Homo sapiens: one gene and its partners. The protein of the gene in region 1 interacts with the protein of each later gene in a biochemical or structural test. Each region holds a gene or a part of one and is shown in the gene's direction. Other genes may lie near its edges. The genes, in order: ANKS1B, COIL, ITGB2 and ITGB3.

What was found.
Region 2: the proteins of ANKS1B (region 1) and COIL form a complex in vitro, tested with the Homo sapiens proteins (one study listed by IntAct).
Region 3: the proteins of ANKS1B (region 1) and ITGB2 form a complex in vitro, tested with the Homo sapiens proteins (one study listed by IntAct).
Region 4: the proteins of ANKS1B (region 1) and ITGB3 form a complex in vitro, tested with the Homo sapiens proteins (one study listed by IntAct).

Annotation. Positions count from the first base shown.
Region 1 is NC_000012.12:99,981,539-99,989,496, reverse strand, and holds the start of ANKS1B (ankyrin repeat and sterile alpha motif domain-containing protein 1B), read left to right. Parts: upstream 1-4,560; 5' UTR 4,561-5,259; coding exon 5,260-5,393; intron 5,394-7,958. UniProt on the Homo sapiens protein: Isoform 2 may participate in the regulation of nucleoplasmic coilin protein interactions in neuronal and transformed cells. Isoform 3 can regulate global protein synthesis by altering nucleolar numbers.
Region 2 is NC_000017.11:56,943,699-56,951,214, reverse strand, and holds part of COIL (coilin), read left to right. Parts: intron 1-218; coding exon 219-1,326; intron 1,327-1,447; coding exon 1,448-1,534; intron 1,535-1,780; coding exon 1,781-1,828; intron 1,829-4,703; coding exon 4,704-4,773; intron 4,774-7,516. UniProt on the Homo sapiens protein: Component of nuclear coiled bodies, also known as Cajal bodies or CBs, which are involved in the modification and assembly of nucleoplasmic snRNPs.
Region 3 is NC_000021.9:44,910,692-44,918,207, reverse strand, and holds part of ITGB2 (integrin beta-2 isoform 1 precursor), read left to right. Parts: intron 1-7,422; 5' UTR 7,423-7,425; coding exon 7,426-7,483; exon of another isoform or gene 7,484-7,516.
Region 4 is NC_000017.11:47,305,624-47,313,139, forward strand, and holds part of ITGB3 (integrin beta-3 precursor), read left to right. Parts: intron 1-1,847; coding exon 1,848-2,014; intron 2,015-4,515; coding exon 4,516-4,581; 3' UTR 4,582-7,516. UniProt on the Homo sapiens protein: Integrin alpha-V/beta-3 (ITGAV:ITGB3) is a receptor for cytotactin, fibronectin, laminin, matrix metalloproteinase-2, osteopontin, osteomodulin, prothrombin, thrombospondin, vitronectin and von Willebrand factor.

The DNA of each region.
Region 1 (7,958 bases):
CTGAGAGACTGTGTAATAGGTTTGTCAGGATGCTAGGTATTTTCCTCAGTGGGGAAATAAAAAGAAATGGTGAAAAATCATTTATCTGAATTTTGGGTAGATTCTCTTGGTGGGAAAATAGTTTGAAGTGGATACAAGACTATATTTTTTCAGCTGGCCAGGTGCAGGGTCACCTGTGGGGCACATAGGCTTTCAAAGGTAGTAGCACATAGGCAGGGTGGCTCGGAGAGAGTTAATGGTAGAATCAGCAGGATGGTGATGGAATGTTGTGTAGTGTGACGGTCCTGGGGGAACTCTTATTCCTCATCACTGACTTTCCCTAGAGGAGAGGAGGCTCTGCTCCTCTTTCTAAGACAGTGAACACTTCTGGTTTCTTTCCCTACTTCTATCCATTGGGACCACTTTACTAGTGGGTGGGGCTACCTTGCTTTCAAAACAAGATACAGGCTCAGCTCTGGTTTTCTTTCTCTCTTGCCTGTCTCATGGATCACTAAGAAGGGTAGTGGGCTTTATTCTGCTTGCTGTCCCAAGATGGTGAGATTCTGGGGTAAGAATCTGTTTCGGCATGCTTTCCAAAGGCAGCCCTGGAAACTGATCATTCTCTCCATTCCTCTGACTTTATCTGTGAGATAGGCATTAGTCTGGCTGGGTATATACATTTAGATTTGCAGATCTACCTTTCCCCACAGGTAGGTCCCAAGGTGCACATTCACAGAGAGGTAGGCCCTCGTCTCATTTTTAGTGTAGTTTTAGCAGGGATTTTGTGGGATATTAGACCCTTATATGACTCGTAATAAAGATGATATGCTAATGAGATACTCTTTGATTCCTTGTGTCTGCGTTCAGCTAATTATAACTTGGAGAAGATGGGTGATTGGTGTTCTGTGGCCTTCAACATTCATGGCCATGAATCTTCAGAAAAATTGTAAATATAATACACTTGGTGTTTGGGTTCCCTCAGGAAGATGATGAGGGACAGAGTTTGTGCCATGTGGCCATGTGGAGAAGAACTTTAATGTCATGCAGGAAGCAAGAACCTGCTCTTCTATCCAGATGTCTAGTATTTTCACATTCTGTAACCTGAAGCTGTTGACTTCATAGTTCTAGTGATGCAGAGTAACTTCAGAACTTGAGATGGAGAAAGTAAATCTACTTCATAAATCACAGGGTTATCTTCTTATTTCAGCTCTGTTGATAACTTCATGTTATAAGATATTATCTTTTTCTCTTCTTCACTGAAAACAGACCTTGGTATATAATTCTAAGATTGGTCTGGATTCATGGTCCTTCAATTTCTTTAATGTTTCCAAAGAGTTTTGTGTGTGTGTGCAAACACTTCTATACAAAAACTGGTATTTGCTTCACTTCCCCCTTCTAATCTCAACCCCTAGTCCCTTCTTTTATTAATCAACTCCTAGAAGAGTGACTTGCAGTATGTGTATATTAGAGCAATAATTCTTGCCAAAAAGTATCCAGAAGTAGATTTATATCAGAATTTGAAATATAAGGGATTCAGAGATTCTGCAGGACTTATAATATCTTCTTACAGTGTTACTTCAGAATTAAATAAAATGAGAGAAAGTAAAGGGTATAGTATCATTCCTGGCACAAAATACACATGTACTATTATTATTATTTTATTTTATTTTATTTATTTATTTATTTTTGAGACAGAGTCTTGCTCTGTCGCCCAGGCTGAAGTGCAGTGGCGCGATCTCCACTCACTGCAAGCTCCACCTCCTGGGCTTACGCCATTCTCCTGGCTCAGCCTCCCGAGTAGCTGGGACTACAGGTGCCCGCCACCATGCCCGGCTAATTTTTAGTATTTTTAGTAGAAATGGGGTTTCTCCATGTTAGCCAGGATGGTCTCGATCTCCTGACCTCATGATCCACCCACCTTGGCCTCCCAAAAGTGCTGGGATTACTGGCATGAGCCACCATGCCCGGCCTACATTTGCTATTATTAATACTGTCCATTGAGAATAGCAAAGATAGATTTAAAAACCCGAAAAAATATATATTTATTTTATAATTAAAAACAAAATAGAGGGTGGCCGAGGCAGGTGGATCACTTGAGGTCAGGAGTTTGAGACCAGCCTGACCAACATAGTGAAATCCTGTCTCTACTAAAAATACAAAAATTAGCCGGGCGTGGTGGTGGGCGCCTCTAATCTCAGCTACTGGGGAGGCTGAGGCTTGAGAATCACTTGAACCTGGGAGCAGAGGTTGCAGTGAGCTGAGATCGTGCCACTGCACTCCAGTCTTGGCAACAGAGTCAGACTCTGTCTCAGAAAATCAAATCAAATAAAAACAGAATAGAAATCTCAAATCTATCTCCATACTTAATTTCTAGCTTCAGTGATGCAAATGACTTAATGGACTAAGACCACGTTTCATCACAGGCATAGAATATTATGGCTGGCAAGGCCAGTGGAAGGCATCCGACATAACTTCTTCATTTTACTTATGCACACACTGAGATAGAGATTGTCTAATTGGTTCCCAAGATTCTATCACTCTTTTCACTATTCACAGATGCAAAACATCTTGATGAAATCTGGATGTTTAAAAGATCTGGATATTTATTTTGGCCTCTGTAGATTTTTAAAAGAATGTTTTCACTTTTATTTTGCATGTTAGTCCCCATGTAGCCAAAGCCTTTATCCTCTTCAACAAAAAACTATGAGGTGCAGTCACTGCAATGTCTACAGAAAAACAAAGTTATGAGGTCACTAAAACCAAAGAGTTTGAAGCTGAAAAATTGGCTTTGATTATCATATGTCAGTAGAATGCCCGAACTGTGGAACTGATTCTTAGAGTAAATCATTACTAATGGTTTTCCCATTGGGGGTGGGGGCTGCATGATTTCGATAAGATGACTCGGGGCCTGCGGTCACCAACTCATCCATGATTAAATGTTGCTTGTGAAAACTGTGGGTGATTTTCAGTTCTGACCAATTGAATACTTACAGTATATTCTGGGAAAGGTGTGTTTTGCTTAGGTGGCAACATTAGGAAAAAGGAAGAAGGATTTCCCTATGCCATTTTCAAAATGAATGTGATGGCTCCTTATCTCGTTTCTTTCATTGGTCTGCTAGTCCCATTATGTCAGGGATTATATTATTATAACATAGATTATCTTATTAAAACAGATTCTAACACAGAAAACAAAATCAAAATGAATTAAAAAACTACACTAGCCAAAATCTACATACTTCAGGAAACCTCCAATAAATAGCCATAATTTACCTAATATTTTGAATCATTGAAATGAAATCTCAGAACACAATGAATTCCATAAAAATGTTTTAATATACTCTTGTTATTTATCTCTAAATGCCTTTTAAGTTTCCCCCAGTTATTTATTGAAAATCTTTGCCTACAGCAGACAGTGCCGGATTTGAGCCTTGGCTCAGTTACTTTCTATCCCTATTATCTTGCGGGTAATCAGTTTCTTCATCTCCAAAATAGAGATGAAAATGGTCCTATCTCATGCGATTGTTGCAAGGCTTAATGAGAACATGGAAAGCACTTAGCATAGTGTCTGGTATGTAGCAACTACTCATCAAATGCATGCAATAATTATTGTCTGTCCATTTCGCTTTTCCATGGGGGGCAGGAACGTATATTGGGAAGCACATGGTGTCTGGAGTGAGTCTGTTCTGGGGTCTAGTTCTGAGTCAGCCACTTACTCCATGTGGCATCTTGAGAAATTTAATTAACCATTTGAGCCCTATTTCCTCATTTCTAAAATGGATATAATAATATCCAGTTCACTGGGTTGTTGTAAGCACAGTGCCTATTAAGTCCTCTTCTTACCAATCAATTATCAACAAGTGAACATTTATGAAGTCTATTCCAAGGACAATGCAAAGCACAAGGTGTAACAGGAAGTTTTAATAGAAAATAAACGCGCGTTCTCCACCACGGCCAAGGAGAGCATCTAACAAGTCATGCCAACCATGCACAATGAATTGCTGATGATATATGCAAATTAAAGTGGATCTCTAATCCATGCCCATTTATATTTTTCGAGTGTAGATGTGGATAAATTTTCAATGAGAGCCTTTTTCCTGGTATTCTTACAAGTCAGCAGATCTCCAAAGCCCAACTAAAATATGGGCTGATTAAAGACTCCAGAAAAACTGAAACAGTCGCAAACTGCTCGGTGGCCAGTGCCACAGAAACTAGGACGAAACGAGCCTCTTCTTTCTAACCAAGGGCAGATCTCAGGCTCTCTTGGGGAGGTAAAGCGGAAGGGTGAAATGCCGGTCAAGTTGCCTAGACTCTGATGGAAGCGGTGGCCAAAGGGCCCCTCCCCAGTGTCACCAGCCTCCCCATTCCTGTCACGGAGGATTTTCCTCAGGCGTCGTGACAGACCCGAGGCGTGTTGCCGGGGCCCGCCGGGCCGAGGAGGAGCCGACGCGGCCCGGGGAACTCCAGTCCTCACACGGTTAACGCTCTTCCAAGGAGAGTGGAGGAGGGAGGGTCCCCGCCCACGAGAACGAAGAGAATCTCAGGGCCGAAGCCCCGCCTCAGCCGGCCCGGCCCCTCCCCGCCAGCCCGCCACCCAACTCGGGCCGCACCAGGGGCCGCACCTGCCCGCGCGCACACGCCCCCCGCGCGCCAGGCCTCGCCGCCGCCGCCGCCCTCGGCACGCGCCCGCTGCGGCTGCCCCCCACCGCCCTGCCTCGGCGCGGGCCACAGCGCACGAGCCGCCGCCGCCGCCGCCGCGCTCCTCCCCGCCGCGGACGCCGCCCCCGCGTAACCGCCGAGGAAGCCGAGGCGAGCCCGGGTCGGGCGCGAGGGCGCGCGGGCCGCTGCTGCCACCGCGGGTGTTCCCTGCGCTCCCGCTCCAGCTAGGACTCTCTCTGCCGCCTCCTCCTCCTCCTCCGACCTCAGTCCTCACCACCCTCCTCCCGCTCCTCAAAAGCACCCCCGAGTCCCCACCCCCTCACGCCGCACCCGCGGGAACGAGGCCTTGGGAATTCAGGGGAGTGGCTGTGGGGGCGCGTCGCGGCTCCCAGCTCGGCCAGCCCCTCTTTCAAGACATGGTCTGATCCCCATTGTAAAAGCTGCGCCCCGAAGAGGAGGAGAGAGTCGTGCTCCCTGCCTGGGGCTGCAGGGAGCTCTCCGTGCTGAAGCTCTTGCATTATTTTAGGGTGGGGCGAAGAGGGCCCTGGATTTTGGGGAGTGGGGGTGGGTGGGGAGGAGGACCCGAGGGGGGCAAGGACTCTGTGGGGGAGTCGGTGAGAGACTATGGGGAAGGACCAGGAGCTGCTGGAAGCTGCTCGCACTGGAAATGTGGCTCTGGTGGAGAAACTCCTGTCTGGCAGGAAAGGAGGGATCCTGGGCGGTGGATCCGGACCCCTGCCCCTGTCTAATCTGCTAAGGTAAGGACGGGCACCAGCTCCGGGGTTGGCACACCTCATTATGCATTGTGATGGATATACGTCCTCCTCCTCACGGTTATTGCACCTGGTGGCTGCCAGCGATTCATTCTTAAATTAGGTAGGAAAACAGACTGCGTGTATGGAGAGGAGGTATGAGCCTCCCAGTCAGATTGATGCCTTAGATTCTTTGAGTAATTTTAAAATAGCCTTCCATCAATGCGTCAGTAAGCTACTTTTCCTCTGAGCCCTGGTGCAGAACTTGTACATGTACTAGTGTTGCTTGAAGAAAATCGACGTTCCGCCCGCTTTCCATCAACATTTATTACATATTTGCAGCTTTGAACGCAGCCTTTTTTGTCTAGTTAAATGAAATTGGCAGAGAATCTCTTGCGTGCATGCAATTACCCTGCAAAAGCCACAGCCTTCGGTGGCTCCTACCTTCTCTTGCAGAAGGCGTTTGCTGTGCCGTGGGTTATGATCCCACAAAATGAAGTGAGTGAACCTTCTTTCTGGTGAGATGTCTTCAGCACAGGGTGTGTATAAAACTTGATGGGGCAGGTTAGGCAGCCCCAGCAATACTTTCAGTTACCTGGACATAGCTGAGTGAAACTTGGTTGTTATAGCTCAGGATGAAGGATGCCAGGTTGGTATTGGGATACTGTATATGGAGTACGGTAGAGGCCTTTTAACGTGAAGATGTCGTAGGTGAGACTGGTATTGCTTGGAGAATCTTTCTAAGATGACATTTAAAAAAAATGTCAAGGTCTTCATTCAGCAGTACCTTGGAAATAGCGGGGTTGATTTCCATACTTGAGAAACTATTAAAAGTTGTATTGATGGACAAATGAAATCAACTGGGAGGGAGGAAGCCTGGAGAGTATTCACTAGATACAATTCAAGGGAAGCTCTTTAGTTTCTAAAATCGTGGCTATCCAATTTATCCTGGGTATTTTTGGAGTCATCAATTGTCATTCATATCTTCGCCTTAAAACATCTCTTGGATAACCCAACTATAGTTGTAAAAATTTTAGAAAGCCCAAGTGATTTCCCTGGTTTTTTAAAAACTGTTCCATGCTACCCTTGACAAGTGCTTAATAGAAACTTTTGGGTGATGACATTGCGTTCTTTACACAAGTTCTCATAGGTTGTGGTGGTCAGACAGTGCAATTAATTATAGGGCTAGCTAAAAGGGAAAATGGAAAGTTTCTATTACAGTGAAATAAATTGAGTTGAAAAATAGTCGATGGGATTTTAAAAAGCCCCATATGTTATTCTATATACTCGTTGACAGTGACATTTTATTGGAATGATAGTTCATGTCAGAAGAATGAATATTTATGGGACATTTTTTCAATAGGTCATAGAGATGACTTGTGTGTACTCCCTTGTTAAATAATCTTCTCTTTCAAACACAGGTAGACAATGTGTGCATATTTCAGATTGCAGCTCTAATAATTGCCTGTAGTCACATGTAGTTTATGTGAAAGCAATTTATCTCTTTACAGTTTTAAGTTACACGTAAAATAACAACGTTTGCTGTGGATCCATCAGTTATAAAAATGATTATGTCTAAAAACTGGTATGCTGAAAGAATTTTCTCAAAATAAACAATTTCTTCGGGAAAACATGAGGAATTATTTGAGAACAGTGAGAATTTCACTTAATTTTATTGTGATAAATCGTATTTTAAAAACACTCCTTGTGACAAAACTCAAAAGCAAACATCCTTTAAATACTCCTTTCCCAGCTGTGATTTTTTTTTTTTTTTTTAAAGAATAGATGTCAAGTTTTAGGGATAAAACACCAAGTATTTAATGTTAGTGGACACTAAAGTATCAAAATAGTGACCCACAGTGTATATCTTGAGTGAGAGGTTTTCTCTTTTGCTGGTGTAGTAGTAGTAGTAGTAGCTCTACAACAAAGATTGCACATAGAAAACAAAAGTAAACAACATGTGTTTATTAGAGTACTTCGAACCAAGTTGTAAAAATCACAAACAAAACCAATAACCTTTAAACTTGCTTTTATCCATCTTATACTGAATAGTGTCTGAAGAAAATGAGAGTTGAAATTGTATTCTTTGGGCAATCATTTGCATAAAATGACATTCCTAAGAAGGCACATTTTATTTAGTTGTCACTTTATTTCAAAAATGATTGTCATCAGAAATTTATTGGCAGGATAATGGAAAATGTGTCCCCCGTCAAACATAATGACACTTTGAAATTTCTTAATGTTTTAGAAGGAACTGTAGAATATGTTTGGCACTTTTTCCCCGCTTGCTTTATTACCTGGGTTGTGTAATAATGGTGTCAGACCCTATGCTAAGTGCTTACACGTGTCATCTCATTCAATTCTTGTGTCAGCCTTAGGAGGTCCATTGTCATTTCACAGATGAAGGAATAAAAAGATAAGATTAAGGACTTGCCCATGGTCACTTAATTAATAATGGCAAAGATTTGAAAATCTGTGATTCAGATTTGTTTTACAACATTTTAAGTCTCATTCATTGAATCTGTTTTATTCACAAAAGTTTAAAGGTATGTGGCCAATTTAGACAGGCCA
Region 2 (7,516 bases), on another chromosome or scaffold:
AGCTATTCAATAAATAAAACTAGCCATTTGAAAGTTGACTGTGAGTAATGCTACATAGGCCATTTTGCCAGAAAGAGTCTTTTGTCTTTAAGTGATGTGACATTTTTTCATTGACTGATGGTAGTTACATTTTGTAGAGTCATCTCAGTATATAACTATGTCCTGGAGATGTGTTTATAAATTGCTCACTCTAGCTTTCTCTCTTGTTCTTTTGACAGAGTTAAATTAGAAGAGAGAGGAGTTGCTGAGAATTCTGTAGTCATCAGTAATGGTGACATTAATTTATCTCTTAGAAAAGCAAAGAAGCGGGCATTTCAGTTAGAGGAGGGTGAAGAAACTGAACCAGATTGCAAATATTCAAAGAAGCATTGGAAGAGTCGAGAGAACAATAACAATAATGAGAAGGTCTTGGATCTGGAACCAAAAGCTGTCACAGATCAGACTGTCAGCAAAAAAAACAAGAGAAAAAATAAAGCAACCTGTGGCACAGTGGGTGATGATAACGAAGAGGCCAAAAGAAAATCACCAAAGAAAAAGGAGAAATGTGAATATAAAAAAAAGGCTAAGAATCCCAAGTCTCCGAAAGTACAGGCAGTGAAAGACTGGGCCAATCAGAGATGTAGTTCTCCAAAAGGTTCTGCTAGAAACAGCCTTGTTAAAGCCAAAAGGAAAGGTAGTGTAAGCGTTTGCTCAAAAGAGAGTCCCAGTTCCTCCTCGGAGTCTGAATCTTGTGATGAATCTATCAGTGATGGTCCCAGCAAAGTCACTTTGGAGGCCAGAAATTCCTCAGAGAAATTACCAACTGAGTTATCAAAGGAAGAACCCTCTACCAAAAATACAACTGCAGACAAACTGGCTATAAAACTTGGCTTTAGCCTTACCCCCAGCAAGGGCAAGACCTCTGGAACAACATCTTCCAGTTCAGACTCTAGTGCAGAGTCAGACGACCAATGCTTGATGTCATCGAGCACCCCGGAGTGTGCTGCGGGTTTCTTAAAGACAGTAGGCCTTTTTGCAGGAAGAGGTCGTCCAGGCCCAGGGCTGTCATCACAGACTGCAGGTGCTGCTGGATGGAGGCGTTCTGGCTCAAATGGTGGTGGACAGGCTCCTGGTGCTTCTCCCAGTGTGTCTCTCCCTGCTAGTTTAGGAAGAGGATGGGGTAGAGAAGAGAACCTTTTTTCTTGGAAGGGAGCTAAGGGACGGGGCATGCGGGGGAGAGGTCGAGGACGAGGGCATCCTGTTTCCTGTGTTGTAAATAGAAGCACTGACAACCAGAGGCAACAGCAATTAAATGACGTGGTAAAAAATTCATCTACTATTATCCAGGTAAGTATTATTTTTTGTAAGTTATCTCCTCCCTTTCCCCTTAGAATGTGTGTGGAGTTCATGTCATGGATTCACATTTTCTCACCAGTGATGATGTCACATGACTAACACTGTTTTTCAGAATCCAGTAGAGACACCCAAGAAGGACTATAGTCTGTTACCACTGTTAGCAGCTGCCCCTCAAGTTGGAGAAAAGATTGCATTTAAGGTATATTTCAAAAGAACAGTCACAGCAAAAAAGGTTCATTCCCCTTCCAAATAAACTTACTTAGAAAATCAGGTTAAATGTGTTTGTAAAAGCCCTTCCCACTGGAACCCCAGTGTTGTTACGGGTTCCTGGTAGGGCTCCCAGACTGGTCGGGGTGGACACGCCAACATGGCATGATGGAGGAGCTGTGGGAATGGGAGAGGATAAGAGGGCTTATGTATTTGTGGGTTTTTTCTTCTTTTTTAGCTTTTGGAGCTAACATCCAGTTACTCTCCTGATGTCTCTGACTACAAGGTAAGGATGTTTATTTAAAAGTAAGTTGTCAGTGTATTATTAAAACTAAAGTCATATTTAATACTACTTGTATGGATAATACAGATTTGTTTTTTTACTAAATAAAAATGCCAGAAAGTAGAAAATGAAAACATTAATCGAAATGTCAACTCTTTAATAGTATCACTGGGAAGTCTCCCTGTGTTATTTGCCTTATACTTGGGAAGAATAGAGTAGGAGAATGATGAGCTTAATTTTTACTTTTTTAAAAAAAATATATTAATTTTTTGTTTTTAAATAGCGACAGGATCTTGCTATGTTGCCCAGGTTGGTCTCAAACTCCTTGGCTCAAGCAATCCCCCCATCTTGGCTTCCCAAAGTGTTGGGATTACAGGTGTGAGCCACTATGCCCAGCCAGTTTAATTTTTTTAGTTACTTTTTTCTAATTAGTTTAGACCAACTTATTTGGGTATTCATTCCTTCATGATTCTAAACTTTGAAAGAAAATAATAAATAGTTCTCAGCAAGAAGATTTGATTATTTTCATCATGGGAATCTATTTTACATATTTGTGAATTACTTCTGGTTGTTATGATCTAGTATGATTTCTTCTGCATTATCAGGTAACCACAGGTAATTCATAAATATTATCCGTGGAATTTACTTACTTAATATCTGTATGAGTCTTTATATTGGCATGTGAGGTTTTTCATAGTTCAGTAAAAGCTTGACTCAGTCAGAGGGATCACAGAATTACATGTTTCTTTTTCACCCACCAACATTTTGTTGAAAATCTTGTTAAAGTGCATTCTTTCTTTTTTTTGATGTACTATATGGAATGTAAGACCATTTTTTAAGGTAATAATTGGTAGTGTTAATATAGTAACATAGATAAAATACAAGGGAATTTGATTTAATCTGGATTGATGCCTTGGAAGACTTAAAATCTTTATAGAAACCTTTCCTCAAGGCTGGGCTTGGTGGCTCCCACCTGTAATCCCAGCACTTTGGGAGGCCAAGGTGGGTGGATCACGAGATCAGGAGATTGAGACCATCCTGGCTAACACAGTGAAACCCCGTCTCTAGTAAAAATACAAAAAAAAAAATTAGCGGGGCATGGTGGCGGGTGCCTGTAGTCCCAGCTACTCAGGAGGCTGAGGCAGGAGAATGGCGTGAACCCGGGAGGCAGAGCTTGCAGTTAGCTGAGATCACACCACTGCACTCCAGCCTGGGTAACAGAGCGAGACTCCATCTCAAAAAAAAAAAAAAAAAAAATCTTTCCTCAAAAGCAGGCTGGAAGAATCAGTTAATGAAGGGATCTGGTGGGTTAGTTCTAGGTCGTTGGTGTTTTGTTTTTTATCTTCTTAGGCACTTACTATCTCCTATGGATGAGGTGATCATGTAATTTATCACCTGAATCAGGATACTTGTGAGTCAAAGGGATGCTATTAATAGTTATGCTGGAAAGATGTACAGACCTGTCTTGAACAAACCAGGGTGTTTTGTCACCCTACCATAGAAAACATTTAATTGTGTGATATATGAGGAAATGGAAATGAATATTGTATTGATACATCCCACAACCTCTATAAATTGTAATTCTAGATGATACTGATTTTTAAAAATTGCTTATTAATGGCCAGGCACAGTGGCTCATGCCTGTAATCCCAGCACTTTGGGAGGCCAAGGTAGGTGAATCACTTGAGGTCAGGAGTTCGAGACCAGCCTGGCCAACATGGCAAAACCCCATCTCTACTAAAAATATAAAAATGAGCCTGGCATGGTGGCGTGCACCTGTAGCCCCAGCTACTCAGGAGACTGAGGCACAAGAATCACTTGAACGCAGTAGGTGGGGGTTGCAGTGAGCTGAGATCATGCCACTGCACTCCAGCCTGGGTGACAAAACGAGACTCTTAAAAAAAATTGCATATTAAATTGGTATTAGTTGTCATAGTTATTAATGTTGGAAGGTGTTTTGCCTACTTTAGTTGGCAAAATTTTTTGAAGATTTTTGAAATTGCTTTCAAAAACATTTTAAGAATGAAAATTGGTCCTACTTTTTTGCTTTGACCTCAAACGCAGTTATCCAGCTTGATCATCTGCTTTATTCATTAACCTTGTCTCCAAAAATTAAATTGGTTCAATTCTGTACTAAAAAATGTAGTCTCCCAAGCCCCTGATTCCCTGTTGAGTCTGGTTTTAAAAAAAACTGTTGACTGTGCTCAGAAATTCCAGGTAGAGGCAGGAGGAACTGGTTGCTTGGCCTCTCAGTATATACCCCCGGAGGCTACCATGTGTCTCCCCATCGCCCACGTGCATGGGCAGTGCATCCTCTTGATGCATTAGAAAATCAGCTCCCACAGCTGGAGACCTGGGAGAAGGAGAATTGGGATCTTAACAGTGATAAAGTGCCTTCTGGTTTCTCCTGGGGGGTTGTGATCACTGTTTTAGAAGGGTTCTAAAAGCATCAGGAACCGAGGCTGCACCATTAGGATATATCTAGTCTCTCCTGATGAATGCTGTGATGGTCAGTGCTCACTTGAATATATCAGCCTGGTGTGATTTTTTTCTCCTTTTCCCTTATTCAGTCACTTTTGGTTCCCTGGTGTAATCTTTACTTTCATCGAGTTATTTAAGATAGTGTCTGCCATTTATGATTTAAATGTTTTATTTTGCCTCTAAAGATATTTCTGTATATTCACATAAAGTGTTTATCAGTCCACCTGTTTTTATTTTCTCTATATGTGGATTTATTTCTAAATTTTTCAACTGAGATAAAATTCACATAACATAAAATTCAACATTTTAACCATTTTAAAGTCTACAATTCAGTGGTTTTTAGTATATTCACAGTGTTTTACATGTTGATTTTGACTTGGACTTTTATTTTTGAAAGGAAGGAAGAATATTAAGCCACAATCCAGAGACCCAGCAAGTAGATATAGAAATTCTTTCATCCTTACCTGGTGAGTCTTTTAGAAAATAATTTGAAAATGTAGGCTCTATCTACAGTGGTTTATAAATAGCTTTTATACACAGGAGATGTTCTCTTCCTTGGCCTCCATATAACTGGCGCTCCCCACTTCTTTCAGCACACTTTAGCCCTGGGGGCTCATAAGAGATGTTGGATATATTCCAAAGCTGTTGGGCTAGTTCTTATTACTGTAATTATATAATTTCATAAAAGATTATATGAACTGATGAAAATCGATTATAAAAAGAATTATTCCTAGGAAGCCTAAGTTGAATGCTGACTCAGGAAATGCTATGAAATTATGGATGAGTGGGTCAGCTATAAAAGATTGGGAGGAATTTTGTAAAAACTGAGGAAGATTCTGCACTTAGATTGCCTTGCAAATTTTTGCAATCTTGCCTTATTTAAGAAAAACCCAGGCTGGGCACGGTGGCTCACACCTGTAATCCCTGCACTTTGGGAGGCCAAGGTTGGTGGATCACTTGAGGTCAGGAGTTTGAGACCATCCTGGCCAACATGGTGAAACCCTGTCTCTACTAAAAATACAAAAATTAGCCGGGCGTCATGGCACACGCCTGTAATCCCACCTACTGGAAAGGTTGAGGCAGGAGAATCGCTTGAACCCGGGAGGTGGAGGTTGCAGTGAGCCGAGATAGTGCAACTGCCTTCCAGACTGAGTGACAGAGCAAGACTTAGTCTCAAAAAATATTTTAAAAACCCCCAAACTGTAAATTGTGGAAATTGCAGACAATACAATGGTATGGTTTATTAAAAAAAGAGCTCTATTCAGTGAACTCATAAGACCTACTCAGCTCTATTTCAAAAGATTGTCAAATGAATATACTTTTGTATATTAAGTCAAAACAAAATGTCTGAAGTGTGTGTATACATACACTTTCACATATCATTTTAAATGGTTGCTGGATTTATCTCTGATGAACCCCACCTGGTACTGGAACTGAATGCGTGGAATAAGAGGGCTTTTATAATATGTAGCTTAACTTGGGGTGTACTGTAGGGGTCCCTGGCCAGAGGGCAGGGGAGATTCCTTTTCCTTTAGAAGATCCTAAAGCAATTAATTGTTTTCCTTTTTTTTTTGACAGAGTCTCACTCTATCGCCCAGGCTGGAGTGTGGTGGCACAATCTTGGCTCACTGCAGCCTCCGCCTCCCAGGTTCAAGTGATTCTCATGCCTCAGCTTGCAGAGTAGTTGGGACTACAGGCACACACCACCATGTCCAGCTAATTTTTGTATTTTTAGTAGAGATGGATTTTGACATGTTGGCCAGGTTGGTCTTGAATTCTTGGCCTCAAGCAATCCACCTGCCTTGGCCTCCCAAAGTGCTGAGACTACAGGTGTGAGCCACTGTGCCCAGCCTGTTTTCTGTTTGTTTGTTTGTTTGTTTGTTTGTTTATTTTTGAGACGGAGTGTTGCTGTCGCCCAGGCTGGAGTGCAGTGGCGCTATCTTGGCTCACTGCAAGCTCTGCCTCCCAGGTTCGCACCATCCTCCTGCCTCAGCCTCCCGAGTAGCTGGAACTACAGGCGCTGGCCGCCATGCCCGGCTAATTTTTTGTATTTTTAGTAGAGACGGGGTTTTACCATGTTAGCCAGGATGGTCTCGATCTCCTGACCTCGTGATCCACCCACCTTGGCCTCCCAAAGTGTTGAGGTTACAGGCATGAACCACCGCACCTGGCCTTCTGTTTATTTTTAGATAAGGGATTGAATAAAAGATTCAGCTAACAGAAATCAGTCGAAAGAGTTTTTGAACAAAGTTCGTTTATGATATTAAGTAAATGTTTATATATAACTTACACTGGGTTCCTACCTTTCTTTTTTTTTTGAGATGGAGTCTCACTCTGTTGTCCAGGCTGGAGTGCAGTGGGCGATCTCGGCTCAGTGCAAGCTCCGCCTCCCGGGTTCACGCCATTCTCCTGCCTCAGCCTCCCGAGCAGCTGGGACTACAGGCACCCGCCACCACACCTGGCTAATTTTTTGTATTTTTAGTAGAGATGGGGTTTCACTGTGTTAGCCAGGACGGTCTCGATCTCCTGACCTCGTGATCCTCCCACCTCAGCCTCCCAAAGTGCTGGGATTACAGGCATGAGCCACCGTGCCTGGCCAGGTTTCCAACCTTTCTTCTGATGAGATTTCATTTATAGAAATCCCCTTTCTTAGGAACGGTGGACAGAAAAGTTTGTCCACTGTCAAATTCTGTGCATACAGCCTGATCAGTGCTTGTCAGGTGATTAATAGTGATGACATCCACTTAGAACTTTTCTTCTTTAGGGCATCAAGAAATGGCTTCGGGGGCGAAGGTGGGAGGATCACTTGAGCCCAGGAGTTCAAGACCAGCCTGGGCAGCATAGTGAGACTCTGTCGTAAAAAAAAAAAACAAAACATAGCTGAGTGTGGTGGTACATGCTTGTAGTCCTCGCTACTTGAGAGGCTGAGGTGGGAGGATCACTTGAGCCCAGGAGGTCGAGGCTGCAGTGAGTCATGATTGCGTCACTGCACTCCAGGCTGAGTGAGCAAGACCCTGTCTCAAAAGCAAAAAAGAAAGAAAGAAATGGATTTATCTGTTCTCTAATAGCAATGTCACTTGTCCTTGATGTGGTGGTTCTGATATACATATATTTCAGTTACCCTGGTTTAGTTAAGTAATACTAGTCCCCCAGCAACATTGCATATGTTAACTGTAAGTGCATGAAGTACTGCTAGCTCTTTAGTCCACA
Region 3 (7,516 bases), on another chromosome or scaffold:
TGCCAGCTGCCACAGGGGTCAGTGACACAGGCATTTGCCCAGCAGGTACAGGCCAGGTCGCTGGGAAGCCCCAACTCAAGGGGCTCTGCAGTGGGCGCCTAGCAATTATGGAGCTGTGGGTGATACCCACCCCAAGCCGGACCTGGTGCCAGCAATTATCCCTCCCATTCTGCTTGGCACAAACTGGCACTGACACGGGGCATTGATTAGGTGGTTGCATTTGTCGATTCCGAGCCCATGTGTGTGGAGCCCAGGCCCTGAGCAAGCACAGAGGGCCCTGGTGCTGTCCTGAGCTGAGGCCCCTGCCCACCCCGGGCTGCGTGTTCTCTCCGGCCATTCAGGGTCTGAGAGTGCAGAAGAGTTAGCCCCAGGGGAACACCTTCCTGCCCAGCTGATTTGTAAACAGCCTCGCTGGGGACACATGTTGGTGTTGGGAGTGGTGGAGGTTTCTGTGTGTGATGGAAACTTGGGGTAGGTGTTGGGGAAAAGAGGTGCTGAGAGTCTCAGCAGAGGGCAGAGTCCAGGAGTCCTGGAGTGCAGCTCTCAGCCCCTGCGCCGTGCCTAGAGGAGAGGCTGGCAAGCCCCTGTCCCATGGATGGGTGAATGGGTGAGTGACAGTGGCAACAAGCCCATGCCAGCAGGGAGGTCCCACTGCCATGAAGCAGCGTCCTCATCAACGTCACAGTGGGAACAAGAAAGCCAGTAGCTTTGGAATCCGAAGGAGCAATTTCAGCATAATTCGTCGGCCACCATGAAATTCCATTTTTAAAATGTCCTTTATTCATTTATCACAAAAAGGGTGGAAAATACAAACAGGAATAATGAAAATTGAAAATACTCATAGTGCCACCACCCAGAGAAATGCAGAATATTTTGGAACTGTGTCTCTCTTTTTTTCCCCATAAATTCACTTTTACCACGAAGCCAAGCTGCCCTGAGCAGCTGTTTGCATGTTTTCGTTGCTGTGTGGGACTCCATAGCGCAGGCACCGAAACCGCCAAAGCATCTTACACGTTGACGGCTACACAGGGAATCAAGATATTTTGGCTGAAATCCCTGGTTCTTTCCTGGGGTGACTCATATGTTTCTTAGCCAGTTTTCTTCCTTCTTTTGTGAATTACCTGCTCAGGGTGCCACACCCTTGAAACATCCTTGAATGGAGTATTTACCTTTTTGTTATTAATTTCTAAGATCTCTTTAGAGATGAAGATTACCATTTACCTTTTGCACTAGAGAGATAATAGCTATTTCCTCTATGCAATTTGTTAGTACAACATGTGCCATTTTTAGAGTCTGTCTTCTTGCTATTTTCCCCCTTAGCTTTTTTTTTTTTTTTCTTTTGAGACAGTTTCACTCTTGTTGCCCAGGCTGGAGTGCAGAGGTGAGATCTCAGCTCACTGCACCCTCTGCCTCCCGGGCTCAAGTGATTCTCCTGCCTCAGCCTCGCGAGTAGCTGGGATTACAGGCGCCCGCCACCAAGCCCAGCTAATTTATGTATTTTTAGTAGAGATGGGGTTTCACTATGTTGCTCAGGCTGGTCTCAAACTCCTGACCTCAGGTGATCCGCCTGCCTCAGCCTCCCAAAGTGCTGGGATTACAGGCATGAGCCACCATGCCCGGCCTCCCCTTAGCTTTTATGCTGAGGTTTCCTTACTCTTAGATACCTATTCTTCTATTTCCTTTATTGTTTTATTCCCTAAAACTGAAGTCCTACACATTTGTGGCCATTCTTTTATGTCCACAGCAAGAGTGTCCGGGGCCTCGGCCTCACGTCGCCACCCAGGAACAGACAGTCTCCTTCATGTTAGATGGAGGAGTGGTGTCCCCTTGTCTAAAATGCTGTAAATATCATTTGATTTCCCTTTGACTTCAGGTATTTAGCAGAGTACTTTAGCATTCCTTATTAATATGTGTGTGTCGGGGGGGTGGGGTGTCTCATTTTATTTCATTTGGCCAGAAATTGTGGCCTTTAAAATTTGTGCTATCAGGCCGGGCGCAGTGGCTCACGCCTGTAATCCCAGCACTTTGGGAGGCCGAGGCAGGCGGATCACGAGGTCAGGAGTTCGAGACCAGCCTGGCCAATATGGTGAAACTCCATCTCTACTAAAAATACAAAAATTAGCTGGGCCTAGTGGTGTGCACCTATAGTCCCAGCTACTCAGGAGGCTGAGGCAGAAGAATTTCTTGAACATGGGAGGCGGAGGTTGCAGTGAGCCGAGATCTAGCCATTGCACTCCAGCCTGGATGACAGAGTGAGACTCCATCTCAAAAAAACAAACAAACAAACAAAACTGTGCTATCAAACTTCACAGATAGTCAAACCAACAGTAGGAACACGTCTCCCTGACCCTTGGGAAAATACGCTTTTGCAGGGTCGCAGGTTCAGAGGCGACATGGGCTGGGTTTTCCTGCATCCTCTCTGCTCCGACTTGTTCCTATTTGATCTGACCTGTTTTTGTCCCTGGATTTCCTGGAGCCTCTGTGATCCAAGGACAGTGTTCCAGTCCCCACCTGACGGCACTTCTCTCCAGTTCTTTATCACATTCCTACAAAGCAGAAATGAGTCCATCTTGATGCTCTGGCTTTTGGCTTAAAAGGTGGATGCCTAGTTTATAATCATCCCTTGAGCCTTCAGTTCCCAGCGCAGGGGTTGGCTCCCATGTCCTCTTCCTTCCAACCTTGTCCCCTGGCGGCATCGTCCATCACTTCCCGCGCACCTCCGAGTCACTTTGATGCGAGTGCCTCTCCTCTAGGACAGCGCAAGGTGGGTTTCAGCACAGGCAGGAGGAAGCTCTGATGCAAAGTTCCAATGGGTCTGCGGGGCCTCTGGTTCCTCAAGCAGTCTCGTCTTAGGGTTTTACGGGGTTGCAAAAAGGAAGCCTGAGACTGGGCACGGTGGCTCACGCCTGTAATCCCAGCACTTTGGGAGGCCGAGGTGGGCGGATCATGAGGTCAGGAGATCGAGACCATCCTGATCAACACGATGAAACCTCGTCTCTACTAAAAACACAAAAAAATTAGCTGGGCGTGGTCGTGGGAGCCTGTAGTCCCAGCTACTCAGGAAGCTGAGGCAGGAGAATGGCATGAACCTGGGAGGCGGAGCTTGCAGTGAGCTGAGATCGCGCCACTGCACTCCAGGCCGGTGACAGCGCAACTCCGTCTCAAAAAAATAAAAAGGAAGCCTGACCCCGCTGGATTCCTCTCCCAGCATAGGCTCTGCCCTCTCTCTGCTGTCTTGCTTAAAGTTTCCTTTCTTTTTCTTTTCTTTTTTTTTTGAGACAGGGCCTCGTTCTGTCAACTAGGCTGGAGTTCAGCAGTGCCATTAGGGTTCACTGCAGTCTCTCCCTCCTGGGCGCGAGTGATCCTCCTGCCTCAGCCTCCTGAGTAACTGGGACTAGAGATGCATGCCACCATGTCTGGCTAATTTATTTTCTATTTTTATTTTTTGTAGAGGTAGGAGTCTCACTGTGTTGCCCAGGCTGCTCTCAAACTCCTGGCCTCAAGTGATTCTCCTGCCTTGGCCTCTCAAAACACTGGGATTGCAGGCGTCAGCCACCAGGCTGGCCTCTTCCTTTCCTGTGTTTGCTCCTGTTCTCCTGTCCTCGACTTCTGTGAAAGGGTGTGTGTGATTTGGCCCGGATCTGCTGCAGGTCTCTTCTGACGCCGCTTTCGTGTCTCAGAGCCTGAATGTTCAGAGCTTTGCTCACCGTGAAGTGTGGTTCTTGTTAGCTGTGTCCATTTGGTGCCCGGGAGGGAAGGGCGCCCGGCCCCTGAGGGGTTCTCCGGGGAAGGATGACCTCGTCCCCCTGGTCCTGCCCCCTCAGCCCCCTGCTTCCCCTGTGCAGGGGACTTGGTGACAGGTACCACTTCCTGCAGCTGGGCTGGGGTTGCACCAGCACTTCCTTCTCGGGCAGGGTTGAGGTCAAGGGCGACTCTGATGCAAGGTTCTGAGAGGCCTGTGGGGCTGTGGATTCCTAAGCAGCCTCAGCTTTGGGTTTTGCACCTTAGGTCTTGGTAAGGGGACCCGCCCGCCCTTAGATGGGGGATGTCCAGAGCTGGAGGATGAGGAGGGCACCCGCCCCTGGTGTGGGGCAGCAGGGAGGGCCTTGGAGAATGAGGAGGGCACCTGCCCCCAGTGTGGGGCAGCAGGGAGGGCCTCAGGGTGATCAGGCTCCAGGCCAGAGCTCTGGGGCCAGCTCAGGGGCTGGGGTGGGGGGTGTCTGTGCTCTTCCTCCCCTCCTGCCCTGCAGCTCTGCCGGCTTAGCCTCAGGGCACCAGAGGTGACAGTGGCCAGGCACCTGTTTGCCCGAATGCTGCCCTACATCTGTGCCTTACCCATTCCCATCCCCCAGGGAGCTGGCACAGGCCCTTCGACCACCTCCAGGCACATGGAGGAAACTGAGGCAGATAGGCCTGATGGGGTCTTGGTCTCTCAGGCCTCAGGTGAGGCCCTGGACCTCCGTGGGCCATCCTGGCTGCTGGGCAGAGGGGCTGCCCTGCCCTGTTCTCCCACAGAAGGGAGGCTGGCTGCCAGGCTCAGTGCACTGCCTTACCTCCTGGAGCGGACCTTCATCCCCAGCTGTTTGTCTGGGCTCAGCCACTGGCATTGGGGGGTGGGGCAGGGCCTGGCTTCTCTTGTGCCCCCAGCTCCAAGCCCCCCAGGGCTGCTCATGGAGGAGCAACAGTGGGGAGAAGGTGGCTCCCCACCAGCCCCCTTCCTGTGGTCAAGGTTGGGGTGCCGTGGTCTCTGAGCCAATCCTGCTGGAATCAAGGTGCACCCCCTCTCCCTGTGGGCAGGTGGGAGTGCCCGGGGTAACTGGGCACCAGGTCCATATCTTGCTGCTGCTGGGGCCCTCAGTTTCCCCATTTGAGGGTATGAAGTGTTTGCATGCCACTGGTCACGACTGTGTTAGGGGCGGAGACCTCATGTCTGCGGCCCCAGGGAGAGCGTGGAGCTGGGGTGTGAGTCCTTACCAGCCTGGCTGGGGCTGCCAGGGGAGGTCTGCACCCCCTCCCCACTTGGCGCAGCTGCGACCTGGGGGAGTCCTGAAGCCGGCTGGACCCTGCACCCTGGGGGAGTCCTGAAGCCGGCTGGACCCTGCACCCTGGGGGAGTCCTGAAGCCGGCTGGACCCTGCACCCTGGGGGAGTCCTGAAGCCGGCTGGACCCTGCACCCTGGGGGAGTCCTGAAGCCGGCTGGACCCTGCACCCTGGGGGAGTCCTGAAGCCGGCTGGACCCTGCACCCTGGGGGAGTCCTGAAGCCGGCTGGACCCTGCACCCTGGGGGAGTCCTGAAGCCGGCTGGACCCTGCACCCTGGGGGAGTCCTGAAGCCGGCTGGACCCTGCACCCTGGGGGAGTCCTGAAGCCGGCTGGACCCTGCACCCTGGGGGAGTCCTGAAGCTGGCTGGACCCTGCACCCTGGGGTAGCTCCAGCACGCACAGGGCCTCCGATCAGCTGAGGGGCTGGTGGGCACTCGTGGCACCGAGGTCAGTCCAGGCGCAGGACTTTGAGGGGGCCCAGATGGAGAGCTGGAACTGGCCTCGGCCTGAACCACAACCCCCAACGATCAGAGATATGGGGGCTTTCAGACACAGGGTGGGCCCAATGTGAACCAAAACCACCTCCTCCAGGAAGTTACAGCAGGGTGCAGGTTCTGTTTTTGACCCCAGGACGGGAAGGATCAAGGGTTCCCTTTTGACATTTTTGTATTCTGATTATAATTTTGCTGGGAACCAGGGAATGAGGTCACTGCCAAAACAACAGGACCTTGGGGCTTGTTGGGGCGTCTAAGCTGTGGGATCCTCAGATGGGCCCCTGGTGGGTGTTCCGTTGGCCTCAGAGCCCCCAGCACAGGTGCAGGGCTTTCGGGGGATGGAGGGGAGCCAGGGCCTGTGGCTGAGGGCACCCGAGCCTCCCGGGCCACAGCACAGCACCCAGCGCTGTCTTCAAAGCCGGCAGGCCCTAGTTTGGGGCTCTGCTGGCTTGGGTCTGCCCACTGAACCTTGGGTGGCCCTGCCAGCACCACCCGAGGGAAGGGTGTGGGGCAGGAACGCCCCAGCAGCCTGGGAGGCCGTGACAGGAACTGGCATTTGCTGGAGGAGGTGTGTTGATCTTTGCTTCTGACAACAGCCCCAGGGTAACGGAAATGTCTTCCTGCCCACCATGACAGGAAGGCTCCTGGGTACCCCTTCTCAGTACCTCTCCACCTTCTTGGTGCCAGATAAAAGGGTCCCAGCCAGCTATAATGTTCTCAGGTCCTGGGAGGTCAGACCCAGGGGCCCACCCCACCTAGGAAGCCCTAAGACCCCCCAAGGAGCCGACCTAGGCCTGGTTTGGGCACCTCCCGGATGGAGGGAAGGGAACCCAGGGGTGGAACGGCCCTGCTGCCCGCTAGGAGGTGCTGCCGGCCTCCAGCACCAGGCTGAGGCCTGCTTCCGTCATTTTGCCTCTGGGGCCGAGGGCCTGTGAGTGACCACTGAGCCGCCCCTGGCTGTGGATGCGTGGGTTAAGGACGGGGTGGGTGTGTATCTGGAAACAAAAGGGCAGGACCCCGGCAACTGGTGGCTTGGGCAAGTCAGGTGACTTTTTTTCCCACCTGGCAGGGACTGCAGGGCTCCTGGGCAGGCCTAGCACACAGCTTGGCACCCGCGGGCATCAAGCCAGCTTTCTCTTCCTGGCACACAGCCTGGCACCCGCGGGCATCCAGCCAGCTTTCTCTTCCTGGCTATGTTTCTGCCACAGAGAGACAGGGCCAAGCCCAGCTCTCCTCCAAGCACAGGCTCTGCTCACGGAGGACCTGGGGCACACTGGGGCAGAGTGCACACACCGGGTGTGTGGGGTTCTGGTGTTTGTGTGCGTGTACATTTGCACGTGTGTATGGTGTGTGCGTGTGGTGTGTGTGTCTGTGTGGTGTGTATGTGTGTGTACGTGTGCATGTGTATATTTGTGTGTGGTGTGTAGTGTCTTGCGGGGAGTATGGTGTGGGTAAGGGGTGTATACATCTCTGTGTGTACATATGTGTGGTGTGATGCATGTATATGTGTGGTGTGTGCATGCACGTGGTGTGTACATGCAGTCAGGCACACATCTGTATGCACGTACACGTGCATGTGTGGTGTGTGTACACGTCTGCATGTGTGTGTGTGCCTGTGTTGTGTGCCTCTGCAGGGGCCCGCTGCAGCTGTCCTGGGTGCCTGGCTGAGCAGGTGTGCTGCCCGCACTGCTGAGCCCGGGATCCCTCCCTCCCTGGCTGTTGGCAGCTGGGCCCAGTGCAGCTGTGCTGGCCTGACCCTAACCCACCCCCTGCAGCAGGGACAGGGCCCCAGCTCCTTGTCCCAGGCCAGCTGGAGGGGAGCTTCATGGGTGGTCAGCCCCAGGGGTTGGGCCTGAGACCGTCACCAAGACCCCTTCCCTCCACAGGACATGCTGGGCCTGCGCCCCCCACTGCTCGCCCTGGTGGGGCTGCTCTCCCTCGGGTGCGGTGAGTTCTGTGTTCCACGGAGGGGACTCCACG
Region 4 (7,516 bases), on another chromosome or scaffold:
GCAGCTTTCAATAGGGTTATGATTTTAGATGACTAAGTATTTTGGGAAAGAACCCAAAATATTGTCTTGGCTGGCAGGTCCTGGTCTCTAAGAATGCAAAAAATGTCATTAGGTTCACAGCCCTCAGGAATGTAAATATCTGAACCAGGATAACAGACACAAATACTTACAGTGGCTAAGGAAGCAAATAAGTTAGTGAAAACAGCTGGGTGTAAGAAGATCCGTTACAACGGTAGCTGATATTTACTGAGCACTTACTCTGTGCCAGGCATTGTTCTGAGTTTTTAAGATATATTTAATTTAATCATTCCTCATAACAAGTTTCTTTTAAAGTCAGTGCTATTACTATCTTCATTTTAAAGATGGAGAAACAGGAAACAGACATTCAGAAAGGTTAAGTAATTTTCCAAAGATCATGTATAAAAGTTAAGTGATAAGTCAGGATTCAAACCCAGGGAGTCTGGCTGTAACATCCACAGGAGCGCAGACACACCAACAAGTCACACTGCCTTCCTCTAGGAGAGAGAAGGGAGAGTGGTGGGGATTCTGGTAAACTAGAAAACATGAGTTCCAACTAAAAGGAGCAGCTCCTCCTCAGCTCTAGCTAACTGCTGCTCTGCAGGAATATAAGAATCTCTCTCTTTCTGTATTTCTCTCTTTCTTTCTTTTGAGATAGTCTCTCCCTCTGTCATCCAGGCTGGAGAGCAGTGGCACGATCATGGCTCACTATGACCTTGACCTCCCAGGCTCAAACGATCCTCCCACCTCAGCATCCTGAGTAGCTGGGACTACAGGCATATGCCACAATGCCTGGCTAATTAAAAAAGACAATTTTGTAGAGGCAGAGCCTCACTATGTTGCCCAGGCTGGTCTTGAACTTCTGGACTCAAGCTGTCCTCCTGCCTCGGCCTCCCAAGTGCTGGCATTATAGGCATGAGCCACTGGGCCTGGCCTGGATTTTCTTTTTAAAGAGACTAATATGAAATTTTAGGGGGAGAATCTCCTGATTATTCAATATTGCCAATAAAGTCAATTTTTTATTTCTTATTCATTTATTTATTTATTTATTTATTTTGAGATGGAGTTTTGCTCTGTTACCCAGGCTGGAGTGTAATGGTGTGATCTCGGTTCACTGCAACCTCTACCTCCCAGGTTCAAGTGATTCTGTGCTTCAGCCTCCCAAGTAGCTGGGATTACAGGTGCTCGCCACCATGCTAGGCTAATTTTTGTAGTTTTAGTAGAGATGGGGTTTCACCATGTTGGCCAGGCTGGTCTCAAACTCCTGACCTCAGGTGCTCTGCCCACCTTGGCCTCCCAAAGTGCTGGGATTACAGGTGTGAGCCACCACACTCGGCTTTTTATTTTTAATTTTTTAAAAAACTTTTATTTTTGCTTTAGGGGTACATGTGTGGGTTTGTTCCGTAGATAAACTGTGAGTCATGGGGGTCTGGTGTACCTATTATTTCATCACCCAGGTAATAAGCATAGTGACTCATAGGTAGTTTTTCGATCCCCACCTCCTCCCCGTCTCCACCCTCAAGTAGGTCCCAGTGTCTGGTGTTCTCTTCTTTGTGTTTAATTTTTAAAATAAACACTTGGGTGAACCCCCACACAAAGGTGTGGCTGGGTTCTGTCTAGGGGTTACCAGGTCTAGACTTCTGATTTGAGCCACTCAGTGCAGATTATTGCTGTCCTAATGATTGTCTCCTTAAAAAAATTAATTTTTGAAAACTGTCCTATTTCCTTCAAGGACCTTAGTTACTTTGTCAAGAACACCTTTTTCATAGCCAGTTCAAGTGACTCCTGCTTCATTCACAACCGCCCTGCTCTGTGCTTCTTCCTCACAGAGTGTCCCAAGGGCCCTGACATCCTGGTGGTCCTGCTCTCAGTGATGGGGGCCATTCTGCTCATTGGCCTTGCCGCCCTGCTCATCTGGAAACTCCTCATCACCATCCACGACCGAAAAGAATTCGCTAAATTTGAGGAAGAACGCGCCAGAGCAAAATGGGACACAGTAAGAGACGGGGCTGGGCGTTTTCTAAAGTCATTGGTCTGAGACTCTTAAGTGGAAGCAGCAGATGCTTTGGGTGGTCATGTTCAGCCAGTACCATCGTCTTTCCATTATCCTCTGTTCTGGAAACTGGGAGAGATGGTCTCACTATCCCCTTGTCCTTCAGCTTCCTTCAGCCTCTTAGAAATAGTGGCAGGATGTCATTCCATCTCATTCTCTTCTTTCTCCTCAAATAAATGGTTACTTCCAGGCTGGGCCTGGTGGCGCGTGCCTGTAATCCCAGCACTTTGAGAGGCCAAGGTGGGCAGATCACTTGAGCTCAAGAGTTCGAGACCAGCCTGGGCAACATGGTGAAACCCCGTCTCTATTAATAATATAAAAATTAGCCGGGTGTGGTGGTGCATGCCTGTAATCCCAGCTATTCGGGAGGCTGAAGCAGGAGGATTGCTTGAACCCAGTAGGTAGAGGTTGTAGTGAGCTGAGATTGCACCCTGCTCTGGGTGACAGAGCAGGACTCGGTCTCAAAAATAATAATAATAATAATAATAATAATAAAATAAAATAAAAGGTTACTTCCAAATCAGACTCTACTCTTTTATCCTGATTTATTCCAATTAAATAAGCATTTACTGAGAACTTTCTATATACTTAATCTTACTCTATTCTCTTTTGGCTCTTCTTTCACATTTCAACTTTTTTCCTCGACCCTCCAAATGGCTATTTGACTCCCCAAATGTCCAGAGTTAGGCTGCAAGTTTGTTCCCATTTGATGTTGACCCCAGAGCTTTATACTCAAGGGTCCCAAGAAACTGAGATGTTTCTGTTAGAACAGTGTGGAACATCCTGTACCTATGAGGCCCACAGGAATGTGTTTCTTTCTCTTTTTTTTTGGAGACAGAGTCTTGCTCTGTCACCCAGGCTTGAGTGTAGCGATCTTGGCTCACTGCAACCTTGGCCTCTCAGGTTCAAGTGATTCTCCTGCCTCAGCCTCCCAAGTAACTGGATTACAGGCGCCAGCCACTGTGCCCAGCTATTTTTTGTATTTTTAGTAGCGACGGGGTTTCACCATGTTGGCCAGGCTGGTCTCGAACTCCTGACCTCGTGATCACCCGCCTCGGCCTCCCAAAGTGCTAGGATTCCAGGCGTGAGCCACTGCGCCTGGCTAAGAATGTGTTTCTTGAAGCTACCATTATAGGATTTGTTACTTTCTGTTGGAAAATAGTTTGGGAAACCTAGTGAGGGTCTTACTTTTTCCTGATAACATGACAGTTTGTGGATAGTGCTTTCTCTTTCTCTCCCCTCCTCTCCCATTCCCTCCCCTCCCCTCCCCTCTCCTCCCCTCCCCTTCCTTTTACGCTTCCTCCCCTCCCCTTCCCTTCCTCCCCTCCTCTCCTTTTCTTTCCCTTCCCTTCCCTCCTTCCTTCTTTTTTTGAGACAGGGTCTCGCTCTGTCACCCATGCTGGAGTGCAGTGGTGCCATCATGGCTCAATGCAGCCTCCATCTCCTGGGCTCAAGTGATCCTCCCACCTCACCCTCCCAAGTAGCCAGGACTACAGGCACACATCACCGAGCCAGCTAATTTTTGTATTTTTTTCCCTTGTAGAGACAGGGTCTCACTCTGTTACCCAGGCTGGTCTAGAACTCCTGGGCTCAAGTGATCTTCCTACCTTGGCCCCTAAAAGTGCTGGGATTATAGGCATAAACCACCATGCCTGGCCATGGTTAGTGCTTGGCCAGATTAGATGAAAACAAATTAATAATTATTTGAGCAAAAGCTTTCCTCTGTGTTCTGAATTGCACCTGATACATTTCTGTCCCTTGTCCACATCTCCTATCACTGTCACAGGGAATGGAAAATAGGAGAAGGGCAAAAGAGACGGGGACACAGGGGTGAAATAGGAGAGGTTCTATCCCCGAATGCTGTGGAATCACTGAAGAGTGATAGGCTGAATATAGCTCCTTAGAAATAGTGGCAGGGAACAGGTGTGGTGGCTCATGCCTGTAATTCCAGCACTTTGGGAGGCTGAGGCAGGTGGATCGCTTGAGCTCAGGAGTTTGAGACCAGCCTGGGCAACATGAAGAAACCCCATCTCTACAAAAAAATGCAAAAATTAGCCAGACATGGTGGTGTGTGCCTGTAGTCCCAGCTACTTGGGAGGCTGAGGTGGGAGGATGTCTTGAGTCAGGGGAGGTGGAGGTTTCAGTAAGCCGAGATTGTGCCACTGCACTCCAGCCTGGGCAACAAAATGAGACCCTGTCTGAAAAAAAAAAAAAAAAAAAGAAACGGTGGCAGGATGGCATTCTACCTCATCTCCTCCTGTTATTTCCTATCAATTCCCATGCCAAGAACTAAAGTGTGAGCAAAATGAACATTATTCTGTTTCATTGATGATGTATTCCAGAGAACGGTGCCTTGGGAAAACTTCTGAGATGAATTTTAAACATTCAGGGTAGGGAAGGACTTAAGGAAGTCACTGTAAGATGCTATTCTGTTTCCTCCACAGGCCAACAACCCACTGTATAAAGAGGCCACGTCTACCTTCACCAATATCACGTACCGGGGCACTTAATGATAAGCAGTCATCCTCAGATCATTATCAGCCTGTGCCACGATTGCAGGAGTCCCTGCCATCATGTTTACAGAGGACAGTATTTGTGGGGAGGGATTTGGGGCTCAGAGTGGGGTAGGTTGGGAGAATGTCAGTATGTGGAAGTGTGGGTCTGTGTGTGTGTATGTGGGGGTCTGTGTGTTTATGTGTGTGTGTTGTGTGTGGGAGTGTGTAATTTAAAATTGTGATGTGTCCTGATAAGCTGAGCTCCTTAGCCTTTGTCCCAGAATGCCTCCTGCAGGGATTCTTCCTGCTTAGCTTGAGGGTGACTATGGAGCTGAGCAGGTGTTCTTCATTACCTCAGTGAGAAGCCAGCTTTCCTCATCAGGCCATTGTCCCTGAAGAGAAGGGCAGGGCTGAGGCCTCTCATTCCAGAGGAAGGGACACCAAGCCTTGGCTCTACCCTGAGTTCATAAATTTATGGTTCTCAGGCCTGACTCTCAGCAGCTATGGTAGGAACTGCTGGGCTTGGCAGCCCGGGTCATCTGTACCTCTGCCTCCTTTCCCCTCCCTCAGGCCGAAGGAGGAGTCAGGGAGAGCTGAACTATTAGAGCTGCCTGTGCCTTTTGCCATCCCCTCAACCCAGCTATGGTTCTCTCGCAAGGGAAGTCCTTGCAAGCTAATTCTTTGACCTGTTGGGAGTGAGGATGTCTGGGCCACTCAGGGGTCATTCATGGCCTGGGGGATGTACCAGCATCTCCCAGTTCATAATCACAACCCTTCAGATTTGCCTTATTGGCAGCTCTACTCTGGAGGTTTGTTTAGAAGAAGTGTGTCACCCTTAGGCCAGCACCATCTCTTTACCTCCTAATTCCACACCCTCACTGCTGTAGACATTTGCTATGAGCTGGGGATGTCTCTCATGACCAAATGCTTTTCCTCAAAGGGAGAGAGTGCTATTGTAGAGCCAGAGGTCTGGCCCTATGCTTCCGGCCTCCTGTCCCTCATCCATAGCACCTCCACATACCTGGCCCTGTGCCTTGGTGTGCTGTATCCATCCATGGGGCTGATTGTATTTACCTTCTACCTCTTGGCTGCCTTGTGAAGGAATTATTCCCATGAGTTGGCTGGGAATAAGTGCCAGGATGGAATGATGGGTCAGTTGTATCAGCACGTGTGGCCTGTTCTTCTATGGGTTGGACAACCTCATTTTAACTCAGTCTTTAATCTGAGAGGCCACAGTGCAATTTTATTTTATTTTTCTCATGATGAGGTTTTCTTAACTTAAAAGAACATGTATATAAACATGCTTGCATTATATTTGTAAATTTATGTGATGGCAAAGAAGGAGAGCATAGGAAACCACACAGACTTGGGCAGGGTACAGACACTCCCACTTGGCATCATTCACAGCAAGTCACTGGCCAGTGGCTGGATCTGTGAGGGGCTCTCTCATGATAGAAGGCTATGGGGATAGATGTGTGGACACATTGGACCTTTCCTGAGGAAGAGGGACTGTTCTTTTGTCCCAGAAAAGCAGTGGCTCCATTGGTGTTGACATACATCCAACATTAAAAGCCACCCCCAAATGCCCAAGAAAAAAAGAAAGACTTATCAACATTTGTTCCATGAGCAGAAAACTGGAGCTCTGGCCTCAGTGTTACAGCTAAATAATCTTTAATTAAGGCAAGTCACTTTCTTCTTCTTAAAGCTGTTTTCTAGTTTGAGAAATGATGGGATTTTAGCAGCCAGTCTTGAAGGTCTCTTTCAGTATCAACATTCTAAGATGCTGGGACTTACTGTGTCATCAAATGTGCGGTTAAGATTCTCTGGGATATTGATACTGTTTGTGTTTTTAGTTGGGAGATCTGAGAGACCTGGCTTTGGCAAGAGCAGATGTCATTCCATATCACCTTTCTCAATGAAAGTCTCATTCTATCCTCTCTCCAAACCCGTTTTCCAACATTTGTTAATAGTTACGTCTCTCCTGATGTAGCACTTAAGCTTCATTTAGTTATTATTTCTTTCTTCACTTTGCACACATTTGCATCCACATATTAGGGAAGAGGAATCCATAAGTAGCTGAAATATCTATTCTGTATTATTGTGTTAACATTGAGAATAAGCCTTGGAATTAGATATGGGGCAATGACTGAGCCCTGTCTCACCCATGGATTACTCCTTACTGTAGGGAATGGCAGTATGGTAGAGGGATAAATAGGGGGCGGGGAGGGATAGTCATGGATCCAAGAAGTCCTTAGAAATAGTGGCAGGGAACAGGTGTGGAAGCTCATGCCTGTAATTATAACCTTCAGCTACTAAGACAGGTGTGGTGGCTCACGCCTGTGATTATAATCTTCAGTTACTAAGACAGAGTCCATGAGAGTGTTAATGGGACATTTTCTTTAGATAAGATGTTTTATATGAAGAAACTGTATCAAAGGGGGAAGAAAATGTATTTAACAGGTGAATCAAATCAGGAATCTTGTCTGAGCTACTGGAATGAAGTTCACAGGTCTTGAAGACCAATATTATTTGTCAATATGTGGGGATAACCTGTAGCTGCATTCATGAGGTAGCAAATAGCAGTTTTGGCCTGTGGGGTGAACAGCTAAACAGTGTTCTGGCATCAGATAACACGGCACAAAGGGATTGTGTCTAGCTCTTTTGGAGAAAATTTATGTCCAGTCTCAGGATCTGTGGACAATAACGGAAAACTTTGAATATTCCTGACAAGTTGCCATATTAGGAGTCAGTTCTTTACTTCTCTGAGATTCCCAGGTCATCCATGATTTTTTTTTTAATTTGAGACAAAGCCTCACTCTTGTTGCCCAAGCTGGAATGCAATGGCAAGATCTCAGTTCACTGCAATCTCTGCCTCTCAGGTTCAAGCCATTCTCCTGCCTCAGCCTCCCCAGTAGCCGGGATTACAGGCACCCGCCACCACACCCGGCTA